2 separate regions of the Homo sapiens genome follow, and region 2 is linked to region 1. A link means that fine-mapping ties the variant in region 1 to the expression of a gene that starts in the linked region. Tissue or cell type: whole blood. Region 1 holds a variant in brackets; the other region holds the start of a gene. All regions are shown on one strand. Distances are from middle to middle.

Region 1 (2,681 bases):
AGTTGAATATAAAACAATAGGAAGCTGCAATTAAACCCCTAGATGCAACTACCAATTTATAAGAAATACAAAAGACAGAGGAGAGGCCGGGTGCGTGGCTCACGCCTGTAATCCCAGCACTTTGGGAGGCCGAGGCGGGCGGATCACGAGGTCAGGAGATTGAGACCATCCTGGCTAACACGGTGAAACCCCGTCTCTACTAAAAATACAAAAAAAATTAGCCTAGCATGGTGGCGGGCACCTGTAGTCCCAGCTACTCAGGAGGCTGAGGCAGGAGAATGACGTGAACCTGGGAGGCGGAGCTTGCAGTGAGCCAGGATCGTACCACTGCACTCCAACCTGGGCAACAGAGCGAGACACTGTCTCAAAAAAAAAAAAAAAAAAAAAAAAACAAAAACAACAGAGGAGAAACACTAAGCTACACTTCAGAAAAGCAAGCAGCAGACTCCAGACCATGAGAAATCCTGCAGACAAGCTACTTCTTTCCTTCTCTTAATAAATTCCAACTAAAAAATTGCTTGGGGGGAACTTATAAATTTAGACTTAAATGACGTATTGACTAACCAGAGTGGGCCTCATTTGTATTCTGATACCACCAAACAATTGAGAAAATAAAACACATATGACATTTATGAGACAATTGGAAACTTGAGCATTGAATGGAGGTTTGATGATAAAGAATGATTGGCTGTTTTGGTTTAATCATCATATTGGGGCTATGTTAATTAGAAATAAAGTCCTTTTAGAGAAATCGGAATGATCATAGATGAAGTGATGTGATGTTTGGAATTTGTTTCAAAGTAATACGGGAAGAGGGAAGTGACAGATACACACATGGGGTGGAATTGGCAATGTGATCATGGTTACCAGGGCTGGTGATAGGTCCATGGGGAGTTCTGTTCTATTCTTTCTGTGGGTGGTTGAAGTTCTCCATAATGTAAAGTTGGAAAGACAAAAAGCTGTTACATCCCCCTATTCCATGAAGCTGACCAACTGCCCCCTGCCCCACCTGGCAGCGAACTGGAAGTTTATTCCTTTTTTTTTTTTTTTTTTTTTTTTTGAGACAGTGTCTCCCTGTGTCACCCAGGCTGGAGTGAAGTAGCACTATCATAGCTCAGTACAGCCTTGAACTCCTGGGGCTCAAGGAATCCTTCCACCTCAGCCTCCCAAGTAGCTGGGACTACAGGCATGC[A/G]CTACCATGCCTGGCTAATGACATTGCTTTTATGAAGCAAAACATAGGATGTTGTCGGGCATGGTGGCTCACGCATGTAATCCCAGTGCTTTGGGAGCCTGAGGCGGGCAGATCACCTAAGGTCAGGAGTTCAAGACCAGCCTGACCAACATGGTGAAACCCCGTCTCTACTAAAAATACACAAGTTAGCCGGGCGTCGTGGTGTGCACCTGTAGTCCCAACTACTCGGGAGGCTGAGACAGGAAAATCGCTTGAACCCAGGAGGCGGAGGTTGCAGTAAGCCAAGATTGTACCGCTACACTCCAGTCTGGGTGACAGAGCTAGACTCCCTCTCAAAAGAAAAAAAAAAGATGCTGTTTATGTACATTCCAAGAACAAAAAGGATTATTGGAAATTAGAAATGATAGTAGAACTGGGCTGAGTGTGGTAGCTCACACCTGTAATCCCAGCACTTTGGGAGGCCGAGTTGGGGATCACTTGAAGTCAGGAGTTCGAGACAAGCCTGGCCAACTTGGTGAAGCCCTGTCTTTACTAAAAATACAAAAATTAGCTGGGCATGGTGGTGCACACCTACAGTCCCAGCTACTCAGGAGGGTGAGGCATGAGAATCGCTTGAACTCAGGAGGTGCAGGTTACAGTGAGCCGAGATCGTGCCACTGCACTCCAGCCTGGGCGACAGAGTGAGACTCCATCTAAAATAATAATAATAATAAAAAGATAGTACAAATGAAAACAGAATTGGAAGATGAAATTGAGGATATTTCCCATAAAGTAGAGCAAAATTGCAAAAATAGAAAAGATCAAATTATATAAAGTCCAGAACTGGAGGTCTGAAATCTGAATAGAGGAGTTCTAGAAGTGGAGAAAAAAAACATAGAGGAAAGAAAATTATCAGATAATACCATTTCCCCAAACAGAAGAAAACTGATCCAGTTTAAAGGATCCAGTGAATAGCCCAGAAAAATGGATGAAAGCTGATTTATGCCAAAGCATATCATTGTGAAAATTTAAAACTGATTAAAAAAAAGATCCAGTTGGGTGTGGTGGCTCATTCCTGTAATCCCAGCACTTTGGGAGGCTGAGGTGGGAGGATCGCTTGAGGCCAGGAGTACCAGACCAGCGTGGGCAACATAAGGAGACTCATCTCTATAAAAGTAAAAAATTAGCCAAATGTGGTGGCATGTACCTGTAGTCCCAGCTACTCAGGAGGCCAGGAGTTCAAGACCAGTGTGGGCAACATAAGGAGACCCATCTCTACAAAAAATCAAAAAAAAATTAGCCAGGTGTGGTAGCACCTGCCTGTAGTCTCAGCTACTCAGGAGGCTGAGGTGGGAGGATTGCTTAAGTCCAGGAGGTCGAGGCTGCAGTGAGCTGTGATCACACCACTGCACTCCAGCCTGGGTGACAGTGAGACCCTGTATCAAAAAACAAAAGTTACATCTAGAGTGTAAAAAGAAGTCATATATGAAAGATCAAGAATCACAATGGC
Region 2 (2,681 bases), 400 kb before region 1:
CAGGCCTGTAGTTCCAGCTACTCCAAAGGCCAAGGCAGGAGAATCGCTTGAGCTTGGGAGGTAGAGGCTGCAGTGAGCTATGACTGCGCCACTGCATTCCAGCCTGTATGACAGCGTGACAGCCCACCTCAAATAAACAAAACAAAATATTTAAAATTTACAATCGTCTTTGGAGGCTCAAGTTGGTGCCCAGAGAAAAATGCTAGTTATGATTGCTCATTTTATTTTAATTTTGTTTTAGCAGAGATGGGAGTCTCGCTATGTTGCCCAGGCTGGACTCGAACGCCTGGCCTCAAGCGATCCTCCCACTTCGGCCTCCCAAAGTGCGGGGATTACGGCGTGAACCACCGTGACAGGCCCGCGTTTACGTAAATAAACTCATTTAAATAAATAAAACAGCAGGCCCCCTAGGAAATGTCTTGGTAACACCGTCAGCCCACTCCGATTTACTACACGGGCTTGGCGAATAAAACTCCACTTTTGGGGTCAGGCCCTTCGCTAACTCAGACCAGCTAGACCGGCCTTTTCCCGGAATCCTGAGAGCAACGCAGGTAAGAGCTGCGGTTCGAACAGGTTTGAGCGGCGTCCTTCAGGCCCAAGGACGCATGAGGGTGCCGTCCCCCTCCCACCACCCTCGCCCTGGGCCCCTGCCCGGCTCCCAGCTCGGTCCTCAGAAGGCCTTGCCCGGCGCTGCCCTCCTCCCACTTCCCTTTTAGGCCAAGGCAAAGTCCCAAAAGGACCAGTGAGGACATACAGACCAGCTCGCACCAGGGCACGGTCGCCGGCTCCTGACGGCGGGGCCCTCGGTCCGCGAGGTGAATGAACCAGGGCTGAAGAGAAACAGGCCCTCCTCGCACCCGGGCCTCCGCGCACTCTCGGGGAAGCGAACTACCGTCGGCCGCGGCCGGACGCCGCCTCCTTCTACTCCCGTGAAGGCAAAACAAGCTGCCACCCCGCTGCGACCCCAAAACGGCTTCCGGGTACTCACCGAGGGGAGGGGCGGGCCTGGCCGCTGTCCTGTCACCTACACACTCGCGCTCGGGGCCACCACAGCCTCTCCCGGGCCGCTGTAGACAGCCCCGAGGCCGGCGCTTCTCGGTGGCACTTCCGGCGACGGAGTGCAGGGTCCCGAATGAGGGCCCCCCCTCCTCCGCCCAGGCATGAGGGTCCCGGATGTGGGTGAGAGCCCCGGATGAGGGTCCCGGATGTGAGTGAGGGCCCCGGATGTGAGTGACGGCCCCGGATGAGGAACTCGGAGGAGGAGCTGGGCCCGCGCGTCCATGATTCGAAGGCTCGTTTTCGCAGCTTTTCCACGTCTTTTTCCGGTCCCACTGCCCTCCATGCTAACTCACTGGGCGTCTCTAGCCGTTATACCAACAATGACTGCGACCAGTGTTGGGAAAGCGCCCCCTGGGCCCCTCCCTGACGCCAGCCCATCCTTGAGACTCCCTGCAAGGAGGCGGCCCGACCCAGTGGGTGCGTGTCGTGGGGTGAGGAGGAATGGCCGACCTAATGGTCCCGCTTCCGTGAGTAGCACAGGGGTGCCTGCTCAGAGTGTAGTACAACGCTGACAAGTAGAAGGCGAGGATTGCGGGGCCTGGGTGAGATGGGACCCACTAAGTTGTGGGATCGAAATCTCAGTAGGTCCTTGGGGAAAGCGGGGACGGGAGGGGAGATGAGCAGATTGGAATAGAACCGAGAGAGACGGAGGAAACTGACAGTTGCGTCCCTGGTGGGAAGACTAAAATCTATGCAGAAACAGGGATAGGCAAAAGCATTGTGCACAAGCGGGACAGGCAGAGCGCCGGGACAGAAACCCTTAGGACATTCTGACACCTTGCTGAACCTGGATCCTTACAGAATATGTCTTGTAGGTGAAGCTAGATCTGCAAGGCATAGGCAAGCCTCTTAGAGAATCAGAAAAGTGATTTGGAAGGAACTTCAGCTGTTACTACTTTGTTTAAGCAAATCAAATGCTGTTCTTTAATGTTACTGGACGTTTCAAATTAAACACAAGAAAACCTGAAGTGTGGCATTTTATATATTTTTTCAAAATGTATCAGCTTCTTGGAGATTCTGATATTCCTTTCCTCTCTTTATCCCTAAGTATCATTTATCCAACCTAAATTCATACTAGGACACAATCTCTCTAGTCTGCAGTGCCCGTCACAGTGGAGTCAGGATCGGAGAAAGAAAATGCACTGCTTAGTCCATTTCATGCTGGACAGCTCCAATTAGAAACTTTTCCTTGTGTTGAACAGAAATACACCCCTGGTGATGTCTATCTATTGTTCCTGTTGACAGGTCCCCAGGACAATAGATGACACAGTACTTCTTCCTCTTCATAACGGCCATTTTAATATCCTAGGAGAGCTAAAGGTTTGGAGTTCTTCCTGAGTTGCCATTTCCCCACCTAGAACCCTTCACAGGTTGTACCTATTAGCAATGTGATGGGAAACCATTTCAGCAGCAAAGGTGAGTGAGCTATGGCAGTGAGGCACATCGCGTCCAAGTTTTAGCTGACTCAGGCAATTGGCTCCAGTGAGAGGACCACAAAAGGTACCCACTTAAAGAGGCCACTTCCCACCAGTACTCATCAAAACATAACAAAGTGTTAAGAAACAGCAGCTGCTATTTTGCTTTTGAGCAAAATTTTCTTTTAACAGTTTGCCAGATGACAG

Evidence for each region. PIP is the estimated chance that this variant, and not a neighbour inherited with it, causes the effect.
Region 2: ZNF655 starts here. The variant in region 1 is fine-mapped to the expression of ZNF655 in whole blood (INTERVAL, PIP above 0.99). The same link has a PIP of 0.9 or more in unexposed skin.

What each region holds. Positions count from the first base shown.
Region 1 is chr7:99,157,728-99,160,408 of GRCh38, reverse strand. It overlaps a transcript of KPNA7 not described here. Among named protein-coding and RNA genes, the nearest start is that of SMURF1, 15 kb to the right of the region's middle. The variant A/G (reference allele first, on the strand shown) is at 1,193.
Region 2 is chr7:99,557,095-99,559,775 of GRCh38, reverse strand. ZNF655 (zinc finger protein 655) reads right to left here and starts at 1,134. Exons shown (of 3, transcript NM_138494.3): 1 at 989-1,134. It also overlaps a transcript of FAM200A not described here. RefSeq lists enhancers at 1,060-1,329, 1,360-1,489.